Homo sapiens: one gene and its partners. The protein of the gene in region 7 purifies or fractionates together with the protein of the main gene of each other region. This does not show direct contact. Each region holds a gene or a part of one and is shown on either strand. Other genes may lie near its edges. The genes, in order: FAIM, EDNRA, EDNRB, TMEM184C, SLC38A12, ZDHHC9 and GNA11.

Region 1 (3,500 bases), on a different chromosome or scaffold from region 7:
TTTTTATCAAGAGGGCCTTGATTCATTATAAGATCTCTATAATTAGGAAATGCAGCAACAATTCAATGGTAACTGAGACACATGGCACTTAGAGTCATCAAATAGTCAACTTACCGCTGTCTCCAATTTTTTACCATTGCACCATACGTCCATAGCATCTTTTTCTGTAAAGGTAACATAAAAACTTTAAGTTATAATTCTGTGATTTAAAGATAAAGTTAACTTTTCCTATTTATTACTTTAGGAAAGGATTGATATACCAGATCTCTAAAACTCCATTAATATTCCAAAACCCAACACTTTTTCATGGCTTTCATGGCTTGCAGACTCTCCTAAAATTTGAAGAAGCTGTGTTTGTTCTTTGTTCATAAAACTATAATGAAACAAAACAACCTTTTAAGAGAAAGTTATGGTCTTAATACAAATTGATGAAGCCTTATGAAACAAAATGAATCCAAAAGGACAATCTTTAAAGAAGGATGCATACAGGCCGGGCGCGGTGGCTCACGCCTGTAATCCCAGCACTTTGGGAGACTGAGGCAGGCGGATCACAAGGTCAGGAGATCGAGACCATCCTGGCTAATACGGTGAAACCCCATCTCTACTAAAAATACAATAATTAGCCGGGCATGGTGGTGGGTGCCTGTAGTCCCAGCTACTTGGGAGGCTGAGGCAGGAGAATGGCGTGAACCTGGGAGGTGGAGCTTGCAGTGAGCCGAGACCGCACCACTGCACTCTAGCCTGGGCAACAGAGAAAGACTCCATCTCAAAAATAAATAAATAAATAAATAAATAAATAAATAAAAAAGAAGGATGCATACAGATGAATGTGAGGAGGGACCCTTCCATACAAAATGCCCTTCAATATTGACCAGATGACTCCCCTGCCTCCCACACTCACCCAACTGGGTGATGGCACAAAAGACCACTGAAAGCAGCTGCCACGGGATTTATATAGGATAGACAGCATGTCCGCTTTAGAAATCTAGTCCAGCTTCTTACTAGGTAGTACAATAATGTCTATTCCTTTTCATAATGGTTTCAGTTTAGAGAAAAATTATTGGATTACAAGTAAAAAATAGGTATAGCTGGTGGACTGCACACTAAGGAACAATATGGAACAAAATGCTGCCCCGACACACTTAAATGGATCAGTTAACTTGCCATAGCTCATCTCAGGGTGGAGGAGTCCCCAGAGCCCCTTGCAAATGTTAGTGTCCTCAGGAGTAGCAGGAGAGAAGACTACACTAATCAAGAAGCCAGAAGTTGAGCTTTGGGTATTACAGTGAAGAAGAGAAGGAAGTATGGCCTGTATGTGCACAAGGAGTCTGGGGGTCAGGTTTGAGGCACCAGTCCAGGGTCTTACTGCCTGGCCATCTGCTCCAGGAGCACAGTCTAAAGGGGGTTCTTTCTCTCCCCATACCTTGAGATGGGAGCCTCACTTAGAGATGGGAGAAAAGCCTTTGAGGTGCGCTAGATGGAAAAAGAGAAAGCCAGAGGGGTCCAGGAGATATGGGCAGGGGTCACCTCAGTGGCAGCCTTCATAGAAAGCTGCTATAGTCACAGGTGCAGGTAAACTCAACTTGTCCCAAGACATGATCAGTGCACACAGTGCTATGATAAACCACGATGATGGTAGAAACTGGTATTTTACTTGCTATGCTTACTGAACATGTACGTGTACTCAGAGTTTCTACAATAGCGTATTAGCATGCCTCTGAAGAACACTACTAATCCAGAAGCCCTAAAAGAAAATGTATTAAATTTGACTACATAAAAGTACAAAAAAAGGCCAGGCACGGTGGCTCATGCCTGTAATCCCAGCACTTTGGGAAGCTGAGGCAGGCAAATCACAAGGTCAGGAGTTCAAGACCAGTCTGGCCAACATGGTGAAACCCCGTCTCTACTAAAAATACAAAAAATTAGCTGGACGTAGTGGCGGGCGCCTGTAATCCCAGCTACTCAGGAGGCTGAGGCAGGAGAATTGCTTGAACCCAGGAGGCAGAGGTTGCAGTGAGCCAAAATTGCACCACTGCACTCCAGCCTGGGCGACAGAGTGAGATCCTGTCTTGGGAAAAAAAAAAAAAAGTAAAAAAGCCACAGCACAATTGAAGAAAAATGCACACACATTAGCAAAGTCATGTAATAAATGACAAACTCTGAAAAAAATATGTCAAACTCACAGCATGAACAAAGGACTAAACTTACTAATGTGAAGACTATGAGAAATCAAGGAGAAAAAGACCAACAACCAAAAGAAAATGGGGCAAAGGGCATGAACAGGCATCATGAGAAAGGAAATACAAAAGAAACTTAAAACTAAGATGCTCAACCTCACTTATGAAAAAGACAAAAACAACCCTGAAATACCATTGCTTCACCTAGCAGAATGCCAAAAAATCCAAAAGTTTGGCTACATGTTCTGCTGGAGAACCTGGGGAAAATAGCTAACGGGGGTACAAAATGGTAAAAGTACCATGGAAGGCAAATGGGCAAAATCTATTAAGATGACAAATACAATTAGTCTTTGACCCAGAAGAATAGAAGTCCTACTTTCCTACTTCCAGAAATGTGTACTAATATAATATGTGTCCTGTTCCAAGAGGCATGCAAACAAAGCTATTCATGCAGCATTGCTTCTAACAGCAAAAGATTAGAAACAGCTCAAGTGTTCATCAGTTGGGAATGAGCTAAATACACCATTTACTATTGAAATTTACTCTGCAGCTATAAAAAATATGAAAAAGTTCTTTAGGTTCTGATATAAAAGGATCTTCGGAATATAATAAGTGAATAAAGCAAGATGCTTTTATGTGGTAAGAGAGAATATGTGTACTCGCTTGAATCTGAATAAAGAAACACTAGAGTGACACTAAAAATGGTTATCTTGATGGGGGAACATGGCAGATGGGAACAGGGATGGAAGCAAGACTTTTTAATGTGTCTTTTAATAGCATTTTGATTTCTGAATCTTGAGTATGTAACCTATTCAAAGTGGTATGTTAATAAAAGGACATATCTAGCTGATAAAATTTCAAATCTATTATGACTCAGTGCTGGATTTAGTGACTCATGGGAGTTGCTGCTGCATGTTCATCTTGGAGCATCTCCTCTTTGCCTGCGGATTCCCTCAGCCGCATGAACAATAGCTAGGGACTTCCCAGGTGAGTCCTGAGCAGGTTATGTTCTGTAAATGCTATCAAAGAGAAACTTTTCAGAACAGAAAGAGAATTTCCTTCCAGCGTGAAGTTTCATATGTACTTTCCTCCTGCCAGCTTTATTTTCCTCCCATGGTATTCAGTGGTGTGGAGACTACAAGAGCTGAGAATGCTAACCAACCCTGTTTTCATTGCCCTTATATGCCTCACATTTTTTAGGTGGTGAAAAAAAATGCACATGATCTTTGAGGTCAGCTCTCAGCATCACTCTTTACTAGCAGTACCCTTTGGCAAGTCACCACCACTCTGAGCTTCCATTTCCTCAGGGGCAAATGAAGATGA
Region 2 (2,679 bases), on a different chromosome or scaffold from region 7:
TAAAAAATGGGACTGTCTATAACTGAGCAGAGGAATATTAGGCAGGGTAAGCTGGAAGATATCAGGAGCTTCATTCTGCATATATTATGGTGTACTAGCCATCCAACTGTGGATGTCAAGTAAACAGTTGGATATATATGAATCTTTTCCTCCAGATATCTACCTAATATATTGCTTATTGACTGTAACTGTTTATTGCCTAGAATGCAAGCTCCATGGAATCAGGGACTTTGCCTGTTTTGTTTACTATGTCCCCAATATCTGGAAGAATGCCTGGTGCATAGTAGATGCCCAATTAAACTTACTGAAAAGGTAAATGAAGGAATGAATGACAGAGTTAAATGCTCAGTACAACAAAATAGGTTGGTTGAGAATAGAGGTAGGAAGTACCTGTTTGATAGTAAACTGCTTTCCAGGATATTACTAAGGAGAGGTTTGCAACAGGCATTATGTAACAAACATTTTCTATGGAAAACTACATAAAAATGAAGAGACACTTGCAAGGTTTCTGTAAACTTTTATTTTACACTTATGGGCCACTGCCAACTCAGGGCCTTGGCTTCTGGCTCATTTCTACAAAGTTACTTGTTGAAAAGATGTAGTAAAGGTAGAAATTGGAAATATTCCTGCTAGTAAACCACAGTTACTTACCAGTCCATAAATAAAATGCACGTTGACGCCTTCAGAAATCTATGACTTTCTGAATTTATAAAATGCATTTTTTTCATATGAAAGAAACAAAGCATCTTGAAAAAAAGACAATTGTCTAAACAAAATGGTGTGAACCTATGGCTTATATTATAGGCATATATCACTGCATATGATGCGCCAGTGGAATAATAGATTTGACTGCTAACACACAAAAGGGCAGTACTTCTTAGCCTTGCAATTCAAGCAACTGGAACCTGATGTTATTTTACCTGTCCTAAAATATGGCCCAACAAATTATCTTACCTAATTTATTATCAGCAATCTGTCTGGCGAAGTCTGAAAGAAATATCAGACAACCTGGCAATTTCATCACCACATTGAATTGAGGATAAGAACAATATAATACTTCAAAGTGTAATGACTTTTGCTCCAGCACAGGAAACAATATGACCCCAAATACTGCTTTATCAAACCAACCAACCAAACAAAACCCTATATTGCTAGTCCACAGCTCATCTGCTTTCACGCTGCCTCTTATATCCCATTTGTAATGGTAACATGATTACAAGATTTATGAATGCAGAAGGTTGCTACAGGTTAAAATGGACTGAGGCAGGTTGTCATGATGAACAATCACCTAGATTTTACTCAGACTATGCACTTTGGCACAACTGCGGGGCACAATTATTAGATTAGATTAAATCCATACATACCATCACACACATGCATATATCACACACACAAATATATTCCACAGAGACAGTCTAGAAAAATGGGCTAAAAGAAATTTACAATTGTTTATATATATACACACACACACTAGTAAAAGATTTTCTGCTGTACTCACAGTCTGTAAACATCTGGGAAAATGCCCAGCAAAAGTCACTGTGGGCCCTTTGAAATGGTGACAATGTGGGAGGGAGATGTTGGGGTGGGGAGTTAGGTTCATACTGAAAACCCCAAGAAGTGAAGAATCGTAAGTTCTGGTGGCATTTGTGGGTAATTATTTTTCACTGACATGATAAACTCATCTGGCCACTTCAAAATTATGTTTCCTATATGGAAAAGGGAATGATCAAAAAAGACTTACTGCCAGTTAACATTTTAAGAAAAATTAAGAGAATAGGAGGTGATATGTATATACATATATATGTCACTATTACAAATACCTGAATGAAAATTTCTGAATCATCTGAAAAATTCGATCTTTTTCTCTTAGGTGTGTTTTAGACTTCTATATACAGTGCACTGAAAGTCTCAGGCAGAGTTAAATGACACATACATTAACATTTTGGTACTTGACATTGATTTTTCATACAAAATTTACATGAAAAACAGATTGAACTTGTGAAAAAGAACTATCTGATTGAAGCATTACTTTTGAATTTAACATACAAAACATGTTCAAGGTCCCTTGTAATAAAACACCATTTAAAAAATAAAATACAGTTCTTAAAAAATTCTTTGAGTAACATCTATTAAACTGCCAAATGTGTCATCAGACTGTGCTTTAAGGGCCTGTAGTATTTGTTGTAGCTTTAGAATTTGTGTTTTAAAAAAATAAACAGTGACGTGGAAAATACTAATCTAATTGCTCACCTGAATACTATTTTTGTCTTTTTTTTTTCAAACTATGTGTAAATAAGTTCAAATAATCATGTTAGGCTATTATGCAGTTAAAAAATACTGGCACCAAATGACATTTCAAATAAAAGTGACTTGAGCCCATATTGTGTTTGGCTGAAGGACAAAAAAATCACTTAAAAAAAGTAGAAAATCTTGTCGTTAATCTCTAAAGTTTCATGGTGACCAGTTCCCATTGAACATTCACCAGAACTGCCATAAAAGCTAGCCATGTACTTGAAAGCTCTATTTTCATGCAAAAGTAGTAAATATCCTTCTGGTTTCATTTAACAGTCTTCATTCTCCCCCAGCTCCCACCATTTTTTAGTGCTGAATACAACACGCAGAATATGTAAATTAGATCAATTAAAGAAGTACGATTCGTAGATGTTGTGGGTGGATAAA
Region 3 (3,934 bases), on a different chromosome or scaffold from region 7:
TTATATCTGTCCTGGAGGCAGCACACCAGAACTAAAAAAATGTTCTCAATCCCACCTTCTACACAGCACTTCAGCTACTGTCTGATTTAGAAAGGTTTCTAACTGGGCTGGACATGTGGGGTTTCCTGACCCCCTAAACAGAACTTTCATAAAATCCTGTGCCAACCTAGCAAAACTAGATTTTAATCTCCCTTTGGGAAGAGATCTTGTTAGATTTATTTTAAATTTATCACAACACCTTGTACTGAAAAGTTCTCAATTCGGTTTTGATGAATTGAATTGAAATTCCTTTGCCAAATTAGAATGGGAAGATTTAGTTTGTGGGACGCCTTAAGAAGTAAAAGGGTCACTTCTGGCCCTCATGGAGTTGTGGCTGCATTTAGAGATTCAATTTCAGCTCTTACCAAGTAAATCCTCACAGTTCATCAGAATCAATTGCCATACAGGATTTTAGGATTTCTTCAATCGATTCCCCCATTTCCGGGGGTGATTCCCTTTAGAGAAAACTATATCCTAATCCACTCTCACCGCTAAACCTCAGAAATGTTCGGAATTCCCCTTAAAATATAGCTATTGGGTTAGGATTTTTAGAGATTTATGAAGGGAAATTTACAGGCATGCCTTATGGTAACTACTCCTGCCAATAGGTCAAAGCATTCCCTACAACATTTCCCAACTTTACATTCCATTTTTTTCCCCTTGTACTGAAGTACTGAAGTCAGGGCTAGCTATAGGCAAATCTGCAAAGCACAATTCCATTTCCTTACACTGTGATTGTGTTTTTATGTGCAACTTTCTATTGCTGCTGCTGCTGCTGCTGCTGGGAAAGTTTTAAATATTTTCATATGTCTTTGAAATTTTCCAACTGTTTTATTTAGACTGCTTTTTTTTTTTTAACACCATAAAGCCTCAGTAAGTGGGCACTGGCAGCCTTATTGTGGAATTGAGGAAACTGAGGCCCAGAGGTGCTGGGATGTGTCTGGAGTTCCAAAGCAACCTGGAGCAACCTGGCTCTTTGTGTGTTTCTACTGACGCCCATGGTAATCACACAATAATGTTAACTACCGAAACCCTTACAGATTTTGAGTGCTCCTTGGTCTTGTCCATGAAATAATTGATGGGGTGCCATCATATAGCTTGCACTTTGGAACCTGACAGATTGGGTCTGATCCCCAGCTCCACCTCTAATTCATTTACTTTGATCATCCTACCAGTCATCTGTAAACTAATTGTAATATCTACTTGTGGGCTGCTGGAAGGAATAATGGAAGTAACACATCTCACCCAGTCCTTGGCCCACTGTAGATATTTAATACAAAGTAGCTACAGTCCGTCACAGCAGGTGAACTGTGTTTTTCCTACTCACCAGTCTGGATCTCTTTTTTCCAGGCCATTTATTTCCTAAATACCTACTTTGTACCTGCTACTTTCAAAGTCTTCCAAAACAGTCCTTCCCAAAGTTAGTGGGCATATCAATCACATGAAGATCTTAAGATGCAGATTCTAACTTAGTAAGTCTGAGGTAGCCTTGCATTCCTAACAAACTCTCAGGTAATATTGATGCTGACTGTCCATGGACCACACACTTTTGACTAGAGGATGTACCCCATTAGGTGCACTTAGGGACTAGATCCTTCAGGACTAGTGGTTCTCAAACTTTACAGTTCATCATAATCACATAAAGGGCTTGTTAAAATACAAATTACTGTGCTCCACTCCAGAGTTTCTGATTCAGTAGGTCTGGGGTGAGGCCAGAAAAATCTTCATGTGCACCAAGTTCCCAAAGTGATACTAACATTGCTAGACTGGGGACTACGCTTGTCCTAAGCTTAGCAGAGGTCTACTGAAGACCTGAATGGAATTTTATTCCAATGGTTACTGACTTTTATGAGTGGACAGAACCAAATGGAATTTGGTTCCAAAGATTACTGACTTTTAGGAGGGGCAGAACCTTAAGAGGGAGCTAAAGGGAAGCTCCCTCTACAAGCTTTCTCATCTCCCCGTCTCCAACCAGGCCCCCTTCCTCAAGCCCACCATGATTTCAGCAGGCGCCCTTTACCTTGTAGACATTGATAGGGATGTCAATGACGATGTGCAGCAGGTCTCCCAGAGCCAAGCTGGCGATCAAGATATTGGGACCGTTTCGCATGCACTTGTTCTTGTAGATAATTCTCAGAAGTGTGGAGTTCCCGATGATCCCCAGCACGAACACAAGGCAGGACACAACCGTGTTGATGTATTTGAAAGTCTCCTTGATCTCGATGGGTCCTTGGCACGGGGGAGGGGAGATGGTGCGTGGCGGAGATCCTGCCGTCCTGTCTCCTTTAGGCACCTCCGCAGGTGCCAACGACCGCGCCAGACTGGCGTTGGAACCCTTGGGCCATAAGGTCTTAGTGGGTGGCGTCATTATCTCTGCGGTTTGCAAAAGCGGAGTGGCCCTGTCAGGCGGGAAGCCTCTCTCCTCTCCCCAGATCCGCGACAGGCCGCAGGCAAGAACCAGCGCAACCAGGGCGCGTCCGCACAGACTTGGAGGCGGCTGCATGCTGCTACCTGCTCCAGAAGGCGTCCGGTGGCCGCTCCGCAGTTTCAGAGCCTAGAGACAAGCAGAGGAAGGAAGACAGGACACTTGGGTCAGCTGCCCGAGCCAAGTCGCTGCAAACGCTAATACCGCCCGCAGCCTCTTCGCCAGTATCCACGCTCAAAAGTAACTCAAGTTTGCGCGCCAGTGGGAAACTTGGCGCTCATGACTCGCCAGCGCGGGTCGAAACTCCTTCCTGATGCCCTCTCAGCTGTTTTTCTTCCCCCGCGTGGCCAGGAGGGGTAAATAATATGCAGTGGGGCGGGGCGTTCTGGAAGGGGTGTGCCAGGGAGGGAATGATGGGGGTCCCAGGCAAAGCTCCGAACTCTTTCACGTAACGGGAGGAATACAGACACGTCTTAGTTAAGCGTGCGTGGGAACCGCGGAATTAAGGCACCTAGAGGCCAAGGGCTTGTGTCAAGCTCTGCATTTTGCCCCGCAGGGGAACCTCTATACCCCGCGATTGAACTCGAAAGACTCCTCCCGGCGGATGAAAGCCGCTACTCCCTGGCTGGCTGAGCTACAGCTCCCGCAGCGCGCCCAGGAGTGCGCCGGAGATTCGGAAACCCGCAGAGACTTCTCAAGTCAGCAGGAACTTGGAAACCGCTGTTCCCTCCAAACGGCTTCAAACACTCGCGCTCCTTCCTTTACCCAACCTAATTTTAATTTGCCCTCTCTATAGGCTTAATTTTTATTTTTTTAAAATCCCAAACTAGTAAGCCAAACCGAAGCCCCAGAATAAGGTTCAATCAATGATTTTAATTCAACACCAAGCCCGAATGTTTACCTCTCGGATCTGACAAACCAGATGCAGAGCGACGAATGGAGACCACCTTCCCGGGAGGCGGAACCCAGCTGGGTTCCAGCCTGCTCTGGGAGAGGAGCACGCCTCCCTTGAGCTGCAGGCGGGTCCGGCTCTGACGAAACGCTGCGAGAATGCCAGACAGTGTAGCCTCCACCGTTTGCTCGGGGTCTCTGCTGCCATCAGACAAGTACTTTTATTCATTCATCCCTTCCCATCAATCACCGCCAGACTCCTCCCGCGCCTTCCGACCCCGCTGCAACCTTTCCCCTTGGGCGATGCCTGGACAGCATCAGTAGTAGTTGCCCGAGGGAGGGGGGCAGTCCTCGTCCGGGGACAGGTCCCAAAAGGCTGTTTATTTGTTAGAGTTCTACGCTCTTCAAATGAACCCAAATCAAGGGCAAGTTATCACGCACCATGTGACACCCGGCAGCTCCAGACTAGAACAAGGCTCTGCACTGAACGTGATAATTGAACTTTTAATGCCAAGTGTCACTTTTCTTTCAGGTAAATGTTCCGCCGCTGTGATATTTAAGGTTGGTTTGTGGGCGCTG
Region 4 (3,500 bases), on a different chromosome or scaffold from region 7:
ATTGCTTGAATATGGGAGGTGGAGGTTGCAATGAGCTGAGATCACGCCACTGTATTCTAGCCTGGGTGACAGAGCAAGACCATCTCAAAAAAAAAACACAGTAATCTTTGAAAATGAAATTTAGATACCGGTTCTCTGCATAATATCCTATAAATGGTTTCTCATTTGACAAAGACTCTCATTTAGACAAACTTTAGACAAGCCTCTGATGCCTCTTTTCAACTTGGCTTCATCCTTGGGCCTTGTCCTTGTCCTGTGTCAGTCAATCTAAAAGAATCTTGCTAAGTCATTCCCCAGCCCCCTTTGATATCTGATCACCTTTGACATCCGATCAAATTCCTCAGCACCCACCTTGGATGACTAAGGCCTTGGCCTGCCTTTAGCAAGAATTCTGTTCAGTTTAGTGAGAATCCTCCTAGCCCTGATGTCCCCTCTTCGTAATTCTGCATTCGCTGACCCCCTCAACATGCTCTAGCTATAAATGCCCATTTGTCCTTGTTGCCTTCAGAGTTGAGCACAATCTGTCTCCCTTGATAACCAATCTATATTAATTTGTCATTACTATTCTCTCATGGCCTCCTGTCCTTCTTCCTTCATTGCATTTCCTGAAATAACTAACTATATATTTGTGTCTTAATTCCTAACTCTCCTAACCAAACTAAGTTCCATGAGGTCTATGTCTGTTCTGTGCACTAAGGTATTTCTTTATACTAGCACGTACTTGGTGCTCAACATATATTTGTCAAATGAACACATTAGTAGCTTATTTTTTTAAAAAGCCAGGTAGCTCCCTGTCATTTCAAGGGTGTAAATAGAGACAAAATTTGTCAGGACGTTGTACAAATGGTCCTGTACTGCATAGGAGGCAATGCACCCATTCTTATGTTGTATGTCTACACTGATCACTCTACCTCCATTTACCTTGGCTTGTAACTTCCACCTTATTCCTCATTTATTAGTGAAACTGCCTTTGCAAAATTATGACTGAGACAGTGAAAGAGATAACTTAAACCGACTCCATCTTGTGTCTAACCTCCAAGCTGTCCTTGTTCATTCCTGGGCGTAGGCTGAACTAACTTTGAGAGAAACTTAGTTTATAGTTTCTCCCAAAGCTATAGAAATAGCCCTGCCCCAAAGCAAACCTCCTTGCCTGGGGACTAGATTGCCTTTGTAGGACTAACATTAGCCATAAGATTAGAAATTATGGTTTAGGAGTCATGCAGCTGGAGGCTACAAGATTCTGGCCCTCCCTAAACTGCTCCTAAGATCAGTGCTTGTGATATTTTGCAGACCCTGCATTTGTTGAATCAGCTGGCACCACCCAGATCAATAAACGGGCTCATCTCACCTTGTGGCCCCCACCCAGGAACTGACTCAGTATAAGTGGACAGCTTTGACTCCCTATGATTTCACCTCTCTCCAATCAGCACTCATGGCTCACTGGCTTCCCCCTACCCAGCAAATTATCCTTAAAACTCTGCTCCCCGAATGCCTAGGGAGACTGATTTGAGTAATAATAAAACTCCTGTCTCCCGCACAGCTGGCTCTGTCTGAATTACTCTTTATCTTTTGCAATTCCCGTCTTGATGAATCGGTTCTGTCTAGGTGGCTGGCAAAGTGAACCCCTTGGGCGGTTGCATTAGTGGACATGTCCTATTGATTTTTCAGTTGCATTCTCTTATTGCCTTTCTTTTCTATTCCAATCTCATCCCCCTTTTCAGTTTTATTTCACAAATAGATTATTATAAACTCCTAATTTATTTCTCCATCTCTGGAATCTTCTTCCTTCCAATTCATCCTTTATGATATTGCAAAATTAATCTTTCTAAAACACTGTTTCCAAATGTTTGCTTGCTGAAAAATACCAAGTGGTTCATTTCTATAATAAATGCAATTGTAAACTCAATTTATTTTTCAAAATGAAATGACATAAGTTTTAATGTCCTACATGAACATATAATAAGGCAAGCTGATGTATTATGTTACCAAACACTGTTACTTATTGCTCCTACTTCATATCATATGTGGTTCTACAACCTACATTATCTTGTCTATGTCTTTTAACTAGCTGTGTGTTCTTACATAAGATCTGCAGACCTTGGTTCTCAACTGCAAAAGCATATTGATTAAATGATTACTGTTTTTACCTGCAATACTTTAATTTTTGGATTTGGGATTAATAATGTAAAAAAGACTAACATATATGTGGGATTACAAAACTGTTTTGTTAGCCTTCAAACAACTATGAACTGCATCAGGAGCTGTCTTATACTTATTGTTCTGCTATTAATACTTAATGCACTGCCTTGTAAAGAGCTGATTGCTACTTAAAAACTCTGCTTAAATGAAAAACCAAAACATAAAAGAATTAAACCAAACATACTTACTCTCCCATAGCCCATGGTGGACAGCAACATAAAGGAGGGAAATGTTTCTGTTGATCTTTGGCTTCAAGGATTAATACCAGATTTGGATACCGGTTAGTTAGATAATTGGTAAGGAATCCCATAAAGTTGTAAATTACATAAGCTTCATAGCATTCTCTGCAGGTATCCACATATATTGCAATTCCGGGATATTTCAAAGCTATCCACTATGAAAAAGCACAGATGTTAAAGATAGTTGCAGCTAAGATAAAATGAATCACCACTCCATTCATGGTACTCACAATAAGCTAATTTTTATGCTTGAGATGTCTTGTCATATACTTACATGGGACTCTCTAAAATTTATCATTATGAGGGCTATCAATCTGTGAAATGAATGCTTAAAAGCAATAAACATCTTAGATATTGGTAAACAAAAACAAGTGTTTGAGGGGTAAATAATGAATAAAGAGAGAAGCTAAAGTAAGTACTTGTGTTCTTAAATCTGAAGTTTTTCTTAATATGATCATAGATAATGCTGCTAAAGATATTTCCTTTAATATTTACTCATATTAGAAGCAGTCATCTACAACAATTTCATGTGTATCCACTGGGGAAGGTTTTTAAATTTTTGATTCAAATAAAAGACGTAATAAATAAAAAGAGTAGTATATTAATTTAAAATATTACATTCTTTAACAATCTGAAAGTTTAAAAGAAAGCAAACAGCTATAGATTTTTAAACATTTATAATATAACATTTTACATTTTTAATTATACTTTATATTCTCTATCATTAGAAACAAGTGAACCTTTTTACTTATTAATCTGACTCCTTGTCAATAACATACTTTCATTATCTTAAGCATTCTGTAATTATAGTATCATCAAACAAGTCCTTAGTTAATGAGATAAAAATGAAACATACTTACACTATCTAAACTGTAAATAGGTACCATCCAAAGAATCCTATTGGAAAAGGAAAACAGAAATTTAAAACATTTTATGTCATATTTATGAAATAAGCCAACACAACAGTAGTGGAATCAAAATTATTAAGACATACCTTATTATTGGTTTTTGTAGTTCAGGTTGTGTATAATGCACTAAGTGTTGCAATATCACCCACAGTGA
Region 5 (4,235 bases), on a different chromosome or scaffold from region 7:
AGCGCACTGAAGCTTGCAGGCCTAACTGCCTCATTTCCTGTGGGCACATGCTGACATGTGAGAGGACCCCTTAAACAACCGGAGATACAAGAAATGGGGACATATCCAAGTGTTTTCCTTACAAAACTTAGTTACAGGGATGACTCATCTCCTTATCTCTAAATTTACAGATGTTGTAAGAAAAAGCAGGAGCCGTGGTGACTTTTACATTAATAGACAGCATAGAGATTTCATCACTGACAGCAGGAGGCTAGGAGCTGTTACATAATTCCACAAATGAGAGGGACACTATTTATTCCATTCCAGGGTTCATGAAAGACTTCACCTGAGAGGCTGGGTGCAGTGGCTCACGGCTGTAATCCCAGCACTTTGGGAGGCTGAGGCGGGTGGATCACCTGAGGTCAGGAGTTCAAGACCAGCATGACCAACATGGTGAAACCCTGTCTCTACTAAATACAAAAAATTAGCTGGGCAGGGTGGTGCATGCCTGTAGTCCCAGCTACTTGGGAGGGTGGGGCAGGAGAATTGCTTGAACCTGGGAGGCAGAGGTTGAACCTGGGAGGCAGAGGTTGCAGTGAGCCGAGATTGCACCATTGCACTCCAGCCTGGGCAACAAGAGTGGAACTCTGTCTCAAAAAAAAAAAAAAAAAAAAAAAAAAGACTTCCCCTGAGAAATTACACAGGTGATGGGTGAAGAAGGCTCCTTTATTGCCACACATGAATGGCACAGGCCCAATAGGAAGACTCTGGAATCAGGAAGGCTTTCTTCCAGCTGTGAAGGAAATGTCTTGGAGACACTTCCTTGTCCATCACACCACAATGCTAGTCTGTGAAGCTAGCAGAAACAGACCAGAGATCCCCAGGCTAGGAAGCTATGTACAAGGCAGGGCAGCTGTTGAAGGCAGGTCAAGTTCTAGAAAACTCTTGCTACTTAGGGCAGTGCTGCTTTTGCCTGGGAGGGTTGGTAGCAACCTGAGTCAACCATCTGATTATTCCAACCCTCTGGCTACTTATCCAGGCAAGAGGGCCCTGTGATGTAACAACTATGACCAATCATACGTTACATAGAGAAGATAAACTGCGTGTGTGTTGGGGGCAGCCAGAGGTAACACAGACCTAAGACAGTGAGAATCAATCATTCTAATTGTTCTAATTGCAGAGTCCACCAAACTGTAATTAGAAGTCTCTGTATGCTTTCGCTGCTTCTTACGCCATCCAAGACTATAAAAGTTGTGCAATTTAAAATTCAGTAAAGACCAAAGCGGTTTCCAACTGCTGAGATGAGCAAAACCCAGAGTCAACAGCTGTCAATCACTGTTCATCTGAAGGGCAGCACTGCAGGCAAGTGTGGTAGCCTGGAGATGAACATTATTTCTTTATTTTTGAGACAGAGTTTCGCTCTTTTTGCCCAGGCTGGAGTGCAACGGCTCGATCTCAGCTCACTGCAACGTCCGCCTCCCGGGTTCAAGCGATTCTCCTGCCTCAGCCTCCCGAGTAGCTGGGATTACAGTGCCACCATGCCCGGCTAATTTTGTATTTTTAGTAGAGACAGGGTTTTACCATGTTGGCCAGGCTGGTCTTGAACTCCTGACCTCAGGTGATCTGCCCGCTTCAGCCTCCCAAAGTGCTGGGATTACAGGCGTGAGCCACCGTGCCCAGCCCGGGATTAACATTATAAACAGCATGGCGATTTTGTTTGGCTTGACCACTCTGACAAACACCTTAAAAAGAGAATAAATCTGACTTACATTCTGAGCCACCACAGCAGCACTGTAGTCGCTGCCCCATGGAACTCCCCCATCCTGCTTCCACTATGGTCTGCTCAAGCAGCAGCACTCACTAGTCCCATCTCCAGCAAGCAATGTGCTTTTCTAGAAGCCAGGAACACTTAAGTGAGCAAAAGGTTCTATAAGTCACACTCACGTAGGAAGAGTAGAGTTCCCCGGTCTCTGTAATTTCACCCGCCATTTCCAAAAGTGAGGAAGGGCTGGCAGCAGAGGTTCCTTAGGTGCAAGGACGGCGGCTGCCGCAGCTCCTTAAAACAAAAGAGCAGGCTTCACCTATCTGATGGACTGAGACAGGGGTGGGAGGAGGCTTGCAGACTTCCCCTGCCACCTCTGGTTCTTTTATCACAGACACTTAGGGCCTCAGTATCTGTCACAAGACTCACCCCCGAGGGAGGGGTCACCCTGGATGACAGAAATCTGGACGGTTTCTTCTAACATTTCCCTTGCTGTGCAGGGCACTGCTCTGTGCCCAGCACGGATGTTTTCAATGCTGCTCGGGGTGCAAGTGATTTAAGGGGCCTCTAAAACCACTAAGTCTCACCCACCACAAGAGCCCCCTTTCCACGCTCTGGGGTGGTTATCCTCGTTTAGTTCCAGGAACCAGGAGCTCACTACCACACATGGGAGCCCAAGGAACTGTCTGCCGCCTCTGCCTAGGGCAGGGAGCTGGGGGCTTTCCTACATTGCCCTTCCAACTCCACTCTTGGCACTAAGGCCTCCTTTTTTTAATGGGGCCTCCACTCCCTGGCCCCACCTACTCTCTTAGGGTTCCCCACCCTCAAAGCTCCCTCTTTTCTCAAGAACCCCACTCCCAGCCTCTCCCTCTCTCTCCCTCCTGGAGGAGTCCCGAGTCTAGTGCCGCCCCGCCCCGCCCCAACCTATCCCGACCCGTCTCGTCCTCTCCCGCCCGTCCCGACCCGACCCGACCCAACACCTGCAGCACAGCCAGCTCCCAAGCCGCCGTCTCCCGCCGGTCCGCTGCTGCCGGCGCCAGCTGTCCAGCACCAGCTTCCGCAGCGCGCATGCGCCGGCCCCACAGCCCACCTTTTTCGCGCGCGCTGATTGGGCGCCTCGCGGGGGCGGGACCGGGATTGGGGCCTGGCGGCTGCCGTCAGCATGGCGGAAGTGGGCGGGGCGCGTTCTCACGCGCATGCGGAAGGGGCGGTAGCCGGCCGGGCCTGGGAACGTGGCTGGTTGGAGGAGGTAGATCACCCTTTCTGCGGGGGACGATTTCGTCGGTGGTAGGTGGGTGTGAGCTTGGCAGTACCCGGGTCCGCGTGGTTGGAGGGTCGAAGAGAGTGGTCTAGAACGCCACTCAAAGGGGAGGGCCTAAGACTAAGCCCGCCTTGCCCTGAAGTGGTCGGGGGCGGGGAGGGAGTGGCTAGAGCCCCGTGGGGTGGTCGCCGGGGTAAGAGGTTGGAAGTAGGTTTAAGGCAGGGCTGAAAGTTGATTCTGGGTTGGAATCCCTGGACTGGGGCAAGTAATGGGAGCTCTGGGGATACTTTGGTACTTGGTACTTGGTGCTTGGGTTTGAGGAATCGAAGTTCTGGGGAGTGGACGGAAGGAACCGGCAGAAACGGAGCCCAGGCTTGGCCTCTTGGAGTGGGAGTCAAGGATTGTTTAATTATCCTTAACCAGCCTGGTTCTCTTTCTTGCAAGAATTTTGGAGTCTGTATTCTTTGAAGTGTCTAGACGGAACTAATGACGGAAGTCAACTTAGCCCCAGCAGGAAAGCTGGAGCGCCTACCCAAAGTTGGAGGAAATTCAGGGTCCTGAAGTCTTTGCTCTCCCCATCTGCATGCAGGCTGCTACCATGAGGTTGAATCAGAACACCTTGCTGCTGGGGAAGAAGGTGGTCCTTGTACCCTACACCTCGGAGCATGTGCCCAGGTATCTTTCCCGCTTGACATGGGGTGCGTATCAGCACCCAGAGCTGTGTAAGGTACAGCCCCAGTCTCAGGGCTATTTCCCCTAAGAAGAAACATTGGTTGTGAGAAATAATTATATATGAGGGGGGAAAAAAGGCTGGGTGCCGTGGCTCACGCCTGTAATTCCAGGACTTTGGGAGGCTGTGGCAGGAGGATTGCTTGAGCCCAGCAGTTCGAGACCAGCTTGGGTAACGTAGCGAGACCTTGTCTCTACAAAAAAATACAAAAATTAGCCAGGCATGGTGGTGCACAGCTGCAGTCCCAGCTACTAGGGAGGCTGAGGTGGGAGGATTGCCTGAGCCCAGGAGATGAAGACTGCTGTGAGCTGTGATTGTACCACTGTACTCCAGCCTGGGTGACAGAGCAAGAACCTGTCTCAAAAAAAAACAAAAAAAACAAAAAAACAAAAACAAACAAAAACAAAAAAACGGCCGGGTGCGGTGGCTCACGCCTGTAATCCCAGCACTTTGGGAGGCTGAGGCGGGTGGATCATGAGGTCAGTAGTTCAAGACCAGCCTGG
Region 6 (3,500 bases), on a different chromosome or scaffold from region 7:
CACTCTCCCTCCTCTTCAGTCCTGAAGACCCCAAGAACCCAGTTAGGATCCCCTGGCCAGAGGTCTCTGTGACTGCCTCTGGACTCAGCACGTGCAGCAGCTTGGGAGGATTTGAGCCAGTCTCAAAAACTTTTAGCCCCAGAATGAGACCAGTGACCCCAAGCAGGAGGGCTGGGATCTGGAGGGAAGAGAGGGGGTCCAAGGGGACCCTGTGGCTGAGGCCATGGAGAACCAGTGCCAGGGCCCAAGAGACCCATTTTTCCAGTTATCAGAGGTGACTGACATCTTCTGCCACTGCCTTGAGTTCAGAAATTTAAAAAAGCTTGCAGCAAGAAAATGCCAGTGTGCAACTGGGTGACTAAAGACCAAAGAAAAACAGTTAAAAGGGACAGCTTACTTGCTCTCTGTCTCAGGTTTAACTTCTCACCTGAAATCTCTCATAGCCCTAATTAAACACAAACAAAAGTCTCTTCCATAGATAGGCTACTTCTCAGCTTCAGCTGCCTCCTGTGGTGGCTCTGGGGGCTCTGGAGGTGGCATCTCTTCGGGAGTGCTGCTGTCCTCCGGCATCTCATTTGAGTTCAGGTGTTCTGTGGGGGCCTGAGAAGGAAAAGATATGAGATTCAACACAAAGCTGTTCCTCAAAATCCAAATGCAGATAAACCTTAGACACTGAACTCTTCCTCTCAGCCCCCTGATCACACTGATGCTACAGATATGCAGCCACCAACACCAAACTCAGAACCAACACCAAGCTATCGTCTTCTCGGCAGAACACAACTGAAGTTTATTTGAGTTTGATCCTTAACTGTTGGTTGGGGACAGATTTTTCTATTATTATTAATAGTCATAATAATAGGAATCACAAATAATTACACAGGTCCTCCCCACTTCAGAACAAATGTCATAACATACTTATGTAACAAGGCCTGACCCAATGGTCCTCAATCGTGTTTCTGCCCGAACACACAGCTCATTAGAATAGTGATTCTGAACCAAAGAAGGCCAAGTGTCCAAATTTTCAGCTGGTCATATGTGGTTTGAAAATGTCCCCAAGTGATTCTAAAATACCACCCTTCTCCACTTTGAACCAAGAATAACTAACCTAGATTGTTACAATTTGAGTCCAGACTCATTTAAAAAATAATATTAAAAATGACAACAATAATATATAAACACGGGTTGCTGTACTTTAAAAGGAAATTCAAAATTTAGGAAAGGCAAAGTAGAGAACTATTATCTACCTTATAAAAAGAATTCACTTAAAAGTATGATTCTGGCCGGGCGCGGTGGCTCACGCCTGTAATCCCAGCACTTTGGGAGGCCGAGGCGGGTGGATCATGAGGTCAGGAGATCGAGACCATCCTGGCTAACAAGGTGAAACCCCGTCTCTACTAAAAATACAAAACATTAGCCGGGCGCGGTGGCGGGCGCCTGTAGTCCCAGCTACTCGGGAGGCTGAGGCAGGAGAATGGCGTGAACCCGGGAAGCGGAGCTTGCAGTGAGCCGAGATTGCGCCACTGCAGTCCGCAGTCCGGCCTGGGCGACAGAGCGAGACTCCGTCTCAGAAAAAAAAAAAAAAAAAAAAAGTATGATTCTATTTTAAAACAAAGTTCAAACTACTAAAAATCTATTAGAACTAATGAACAAGGGCCGAGTACGGTGGCTCGTGCCTATAATTCCAGCACTTTGGGAGGCCGAGGAGGGTAGATCACTTGAGGTCAGGAGTTTGAGACCAGCCTGGCCAACATGGCAAAACCCGGTCTCTACTAAAAACACAAAAATTAGCCGGTGTGGTGGTGGGCACCTGTAATCCCAGCTACTTGGGAGGCTGAGGCAGAAGAATCACTTGAACCCAGGAGGTGGAGGTTGCAGTGAGCCAAGATGGCGCTGCCGCACTCCAGCCTGGGCAACAGAGCGAAACTCCATCTCATAAAATAAAAACAAAAACAAACAAAAAAGAACTAATGAACAAGCTTGGCAAGGTTTTAGGGTATAAGATCCATATATAAAAATCAATTGTCTTTCAATACACTCCAAGTGAAAAATCCAAAAATGAAATTAGTAAAACAATTTCACTTACAATAACATGAAAAATAATCAAATATTTATGAATAAATGTAACAAAAGTGTAAAACTTATACTCTGAAAACTACAAAATGTTGTTGAAAGAAATCAAATCATACCTAAATATGTGAAAATACAGTCCATGTAAATGGCTCAGAATATTTAATCTTGTTAGGATGGCAATATTTCCCCAAATTGATCTATAGATTCAATGAAATCCCCATCAAAATTCCAGCTGGCTTCTTTTCATAAATGACAAGTTGATCCTAAGATTCATACGGAAATTTAAGGCACCCAGAAGAGCCAAAACAATCATGAAAAAGAAGTATAAAGTTGGAGGACTCACATTTCCTGATTTCAAAACTTACTACAATGCTAAAGTAATCAAGACAGCGTGGTACTAGCATAAGAACAGACATATTGAGCAATACAATAGAACTGAAAGTCCAGAAATGAACTCTCACATTTATAGATTTTCAACAAGGGTGCCAAGACAAGTCTATGGGAGAAGAATAGTCCTTTCAACAAATGGTGCAGAGACAACTGGATAGCTACAGGCAAAAGAAAGAATGTGGACCCTCTACCTCACACCATATATAAAAATTAACTCAAAATGGATCAAAAACCTAAATGTAAGAGCCAAAACTGTACAGCTCTTACAAGAAAACAAGGGCATAAATCTTCATGACTTTGGATTAGGCAACAGTTTCTCAGATATGACACCAAAAAGTACAAACAACAAAAGAAAAAAATAGACAAACTGGACTACATCAAAATTTAAAAATTTTGTGCTCCAAAGGACACTATCAAGAAAATTAAAAGATAACCCATGGAATAGGAGAAAATATTTGCAAATTGTATATCTGGTAAGAGACTTGCATACAGATTACATAAAGAACTCTTACAACTCAACAATAAAAAAGACAAACAATCCAATTAAAAAATAGACAAAAGCTCTGAACAGACACTTCTCCAATGAGCACATAAAAATGGCCAATAAGCACATGAAAAGATATTCGACATCATTAGTCATCAGGGAAATGCAAATCAAAACCACAATGAGATACCACTTCACATTCACTAAGATGGCTAGACTCAAAATGTCAGATAATAAGTGTTGCAGAGGATGTAGAGAAACTGGAACCCTCAGGCACTGCTAGTGGGGGTATAAAATGGTGCAGCCACTTTGGAAAACAGTTCAGCAGTACCTTAAAGGTTAAACATAGAGCTACCATGTGACCTAGCTATTTTACTCCCAGGTATATAGCCAAGAGAAATGAAAATATATGGCCATGCAAAAATTGGTACACAAATGTTCATAGCAGCATCACTCATAATAATCAAATGGTGGAAACAATCCAAATGTCCATCAACTGATGAATGGATAAATGAAATGTGGTATATCCATATAATGGAATATCATTTGGCCATAT
Region 7 (3,950 bases):
TAGCTGCTCCCTGAAAAACGGGGGCAATCGCAAGCTCGGGGCTGGCCTACTGGGAGAGTGGAATGAGTTCCCACAAGCAGGCAGGGAGCCTGACAGAGGTCCCCTCCCCTGCACCCTGAGGCCCCAGCCCCTGGACCTCAGGTGGTCAAAGTCCTCCCAGCAAGGGGCCCTCCAGCTGGGATGCAAGGTTGCTTGGACGGGAAGTTTTCTGAGGGTCTGTCGCATCAGATTCCCAAAGGGGTCCCTGGCTCCAACACCTTGGGTGTGAAGCCCTCCCAACCCCCTGACAGCCCCGGCTCTCTGCGTGGCACTGACACCAGTCCTCCTTGGGTCGCACGTGAGCTCACATCTTCCTCACTGTCCTATCTGCCACGCCTGGCCCTGAGCCTGACAGCAACCTCCCGTCTTACAGGCTGATAGGGGTCAACTTTCAGGCTCACAGAGTGGGAGGGGGTGGGACTGCAGACACAGGTGCTCCTGCAGCAGACACCCCCGGGCCACAGGCGGGCACTGGACAGAGGATGCGGGAAGGGCCGCATCACTTCCAGACTTGCTCCAAGCAGCCAAGGCGGCAGACACGGGAGCCCCTGACCTTCGTCCTTGAACCCCGTGTCAATCTCAAGTCCAAAGTGCAGGCACAGAAGACCGGGTGCATGCAGGGATGGCGGCGGGGGTTCTGGAGGTCACAGAGCCACAGGGCAAGGCCATCTGGTAAGATCTTTATGACACCAGTAATTCCTAACTCCCCTCCATCCAAACAAAGTCCACGACCCACTACAAAAGCCAGCCAGTGCCACTCTGTGCAAAGTGCCACCACGCGGGCCGCACTGCACATTTCCTCCAAACGTGAGGACCACGGCTCTGCCTACCCGCGGCCCCCTGGAAAGATGGCCCATTTTAGAACCCTTAGGTAAATCAAAACACAAGTTTGGGGAAAAAAATCAGGAAGGCGTTTCATCCAAGGCACCTCTGTAACCCGGGACACGGAGGGCCCTAAGAGGCTCACGGCAGGAGAGGCAACGTGTTCCCCACACAACATGCGACCTGCCTCCTCCCCAAGAGCCACCGCCACCAGCACGCCCCCTCCTCCGTCACCGCTGCCTCTCACGCATTTCCGACCTTCCCCACCGCCCCGCCCCCGGCCCAGGAGCTAACCTAGGAGCTCGGGAGGGCAGGGGCGGGGCAGGGCAAGAGCTTCTGTTTTGTAAACCACTGAAGGGGCCCTTATTTGGAGTGACAACACTTTACAGCTGGCCCGACTGGCTCCCTGCAGCAGGTGTGCCTTGGGGAGAAGGAGGTTCACCAGCAAACCTTCTCCAGGACGGTGGGGAGGAGCCGGCAGGTGGGGGGCTGCTCTCAACGAGGACTCAGCGTGGCTCCCACCAGGACTCTAAGGAAGGGGGCGGGGGAGGCTGCCGAGATAGCTGCTTGGGACAACAAGCAAAGGCTCCCTCAGGTGTCAACCGCCCCACCCTCAGCTGAGCGGAACCCTGAGGAGAGGAAAGACTGTCTTTTTCCCACAGGGTGCATTCCAGCCAAGAGGAGTACGGGGTTTCCCGGAACAGGAAGGCAGGAGAATGGCCCTGAAGGGAATGTGGGGATAGGGGACACGGAGGAGTCTTCGGGGGGATGGGGGGGTGTACAGGGCCTGCATGGAGGGTACAGGGCCTGCATGGAGTGTACAGGGCTCTGCCTGGAGGGAAGGGTCAACGCGGGGCCCTGAGCAGTGAGGGGTGAGTGTGCCCTGTGGGTTACAGCCCAAAGGTCTGGCCCTGAAGGGGTAGCGAGGGGTGGGTACTCCGGTGGGGTAAGGTCAGAAGGTCCCTGTGCAGGGAGGGACTGGTCCCTTGAGAAGGAACAGAGGGCAAATCCTGAAGAGTCCTGGAGGCCCAATGTAGACAGCAGAAGCTGGGAGCTGACCTAGGAGTGATCGGGGGCCTGATCCAGACAGGACAGACACAGGCTGACACCGGAGAGTCCCAGGTGCCAACATGAACAGTTAAGGCAGGGGCTGACCCCAAAGAAATCAGGGGCCCGCAGCTGACCCCGGAGGGTCCCAGGTGCCGACCTAGACAGCAAAGGCAGGGCTGACCCCAGAGGGTCCCGAGCCGACCCAGACGACACAGGCAGGGCTGATCCCGGAGGGCCCCGCCCCGACCCGGACAGGCAGTGAAGGCACAGGCAGGGCTGACACTCGAGGGTCCCGCGACCCGGACAGGCAGGGAAGGCACAGGCAGGGCTGACCCCGGAGGGTCTCGCGACCCGGACGGCACAGGCAGGGCTGACCCCGGAGGGTCCCGGCCCGACCCGGACAGGCAGGGCAGGCACAGGCAGGGCAGGGCCCGCAGCCGGCAGGCCCGGGGGCCGCACTCACCGAGCAGCAGCAGCTTGAGCTCGCGCCGGGCGTCGCGCTTGTCCCGCCGCAGCTGCTTCTCGATCTCGGCGTTGATCCGCTTGGACTCCTTCACCTCATCGCTCAGGCAACACGCCATCATGGACTCCAGAGTCATCGTCCCGGCCCCGGCCGACGCGGCCGCCTGCCCGCCGCCGCCCCCCGGCCCCCGGCCCGGCCCTGGCCGGAGCCGCCTCGGCCGCCGCCCGCCGCGGCCCTCCGGCCTCGGCCACCGGCCCTCGGCCCCGGGCCGGCCCGCCCCGCCTCGGCCGCCGCCTGGCGAGCCGCCGGGTCCCCGCTCGGGCCGCGCCAGCCGCGGACTCCCGCGCGGCCGCACTCAGCCCGCGCCGCCGCCGCAGCCACCGCCAACCGCAGCCGCCGCAACCGAGCGACAGCGCCGGACAACCTAGCAGGCTGGGAGCGCAGCCCGCGACGGGCAGACGGTGCGGCCAATGGGAGGGGCCGGCGGCCAAGCGCGCCCACCATGGGGGCGGGACTAGCGGCCTGGGCGGGGCGTCGGCGGGCGCGAAAGGGGCGGGGCGGGGCGAGGGCGGGGGGCCCGCGGGTTTGGTTGCGCCGACGTGGGAAGGGGGACGCGCAGCCGGGAGCCGGGGCGGGGCCGCCCGGGATTGTGGGAATGTGGCGGACTCGGCCCGGCCAGGCTCGGCTCCGCTCGGCTCCGTTCGGCCCCGCTCGGTCCCGCTCGGCTCGGCCCAGGCGCGGTGGCGGAGGCGCGCACGCGGCCGCTGCGCTCTCTGGGTCTCCAGGTGCCTGGGCAGCAGTCGCTGCCCCCGGGAAGCGCCCTGACATTGCCTGACAGGAACCTTCACTCATCCATTAAAAAGCGTTAATGGAGGTCGGGCGCGGTGGCTCACGCCTGTAATCCCAGCACTTTGGAAGGCCGAGGCGGGCGGATCACCTGAGGTCTGGAGTTCGAGACCAGCCTGACCAACAGGGAGAAACGCCGTCTCTACTAAAACTACAAAATTAGCCCGGCGTGGTGGTGCACGCCCGTAATCCCAGCTACTCGGGAGGCTGAGGCAGGAGAATCACTTGAACCCAGGAGGCGGAGGTTGCAGTGAGCCGAGATCACGCCATTGCACTCCAGCCTGGGCAACAAGAACGAAACTCCGTCTCCAAAGAAAAAAAAAAAAAAAGAGGGCCGGGCGCGGTGGCTCACGCCTGTAATCCCAGCACTTTGGGAGGCCGAGGCGGGTGGATCACGAGGTCAGGAGATCGAGACTATCCTGGCTGACACGGTGAAACCCCGTCTCTACTAAAAATACAAAAAATTAGCCGGGCGTGGTGGCGGGCGCCTGTAGTCCCAGCTACTCGGGAGGCTGAGGCAGGAGAATGGCGTGAACCCGGGAGACGGAACTTGCAGTGAGCTGAGATCATGCCACTGCACTCCAGCCTGGGCGACAGAGCGAGACTCTGTCTCAAAAAAAAAAATTAAAAAGCGTTAATGGGACACCTACTGTGTATCAGGCATTAATGGGACACATTCTATATGCCAGGCACGGACCAGAGATTAATGGAGTGCCTGCTGTCCATCAGG

Evidence for each region.
Region 1: the proteins of GNA11 (region 7) and FAIM fractionate together in Homo sapiens (co-fractionation; one large-scale study listed by BioGRID). This does not show direct contact.
Region 2: the proteins of GNA11 (region 7) and EDNRA purify together in Homo sapiens (affinity purification with western blotting, with the first as the bait; one study listed by BioGRID). This does not show direct contact.
Region 3: the proteins of GNA11 (region 7) and EDNRB purify together in Homo sapiens (affinity purification with western blotting, with the first as the bait; one study listed by BioGRID). This does not show direct contact.
Region 4: the proteins of GNA11 (region 7) and TMEM184C fractionate together in Homo sapiens (co-fractionation; one large-scale study listed by BioGRID). This does not show direct contact.
Region 5: the proteins of GNA11 (region 7) and SLC38A12 fractionate together in Homo sapiens (co-fractionation; one large-scale study listed by BioGRID). This does not show direct contact.
Region 6: the proteins of GNA11 (region 7) and ZDHHC9 fractionate together in Homo sapiens (co-fractionation; one large-scale study listed by BioGRID). This does not show direct contact.

The regions. Positions count from the first base shown.
Region 1 is NC_000003.12:138,625,771-138,629,270, reverse strand, and holds part of FAIM (fas apoptotic inhibitory molecule 1), read right to left. Parts: intron 165-3,500; coding exon 115-164; intron 1-114. UniProt on the Homo sapiens protein: Plays a role as an inducible effector molecule that mediates Fas resistance produced by surface Ig engagement in B cells.
Region 2 is NC_000004.12:147,542,776-147,545,454, reverse strand, and holds the end of EDNRA (endothelin-1 receptor isoform a precursor), read right to left. Parts: 3' UTR 501-2,679; downstream 1-500. UniProt on the Homo sapiens protein: Receptor for endothelin-1. Mediates its action by association with G proteins that activate a phosphatidylinositol-calcium second messenger system. The rank order of binding affinities for ET-A is: ET1 > ET2 >> ET3.
Region 3 is NC_000013.11:77,916,032-77,919,965, forward strand, and holds the start of EDNRB (endothelin receptor type B isoform 1 precursor), read right to left. Parts: upstream 2,801-3,934; 5' UTR 2,594-2,800; coding exon of another isoform or gene 2,543-2,593; coding exon 2,060-2,542; intron 1-2,059. UniProt on the Homo sapiens protein: Non-specific receptor for endothelin 1, 2, and 3. Mediates its action by association with G proteins that activate a phosphatidylinositol-calcium second messenger system.
Region 4 is NC_000004.12:147,623,897-147,627,396, reverse strand, and holds part of TMEM184C (transmembrane protein 184C), read right to left. Parts: coding exon 3,433-3,500; intron 3,336-3,432; coding exon 3,299-3,335; intron 2,594-3,298; coding exon 2,388-2,593; intron 1-2,387. UniProt on the Homo sapiens protein: Possible tumor suppressor which may play a role in cell growth.
Region 5 is NC_000017.11:74,775,064-74,779,298, reverse strand, and holds the start of SLC38A12 (transmembrane protein 104), read right to left. Parts: upstream 2,801-4,235; 5' UTR 2,722-2,800; intron 2,036-2,721; 5' UTR 1,969-2,035; coding exon 1,924-1,968; intron 1-1,923. Other genes in the region: NAT9 (alpha/beta-tubulin-N-acetyltransferase 9), read left to right, coding at 3,586-3,677.
Region 6 is NC_000023.11:129,805,887-129,809,386, forward strand, and holds part of ZDHHC9 (palmitoyltransferase ZDHHC9), read right to left. Parts: intron 601-3,500; coding exon 484-600; 3' UTR 1-483. UniProt on the Homo sapiens protein: Palmitoyltransferase that catalyzes the addition of palmitate onto various protein substrates, such as ADRB2, GSDMD, HRAS, NRAS and CGAS. The ZDHHC9-GOLGA7 complex is a palmitoyltransferase specific for HRAS and NRAS.
Region 7 is NC_000019.10:3,093,212-3,097,161, reverse strand, and holds the start of GNA11 (guanine nucleotide-binding protein subunit alpha-11), read right to left. Parts: upstream 2,801-3,950; 5' UTR 2,511-2,800; coding exon 2,375-2,510; intron 1-2,374. UniProt on the Homo sapiens protein: Guanine nucleotide-binding proteins (G proteins) function as transducers downstream of G protein-coupled receptors (GPCRs) in numerous signaling cascades.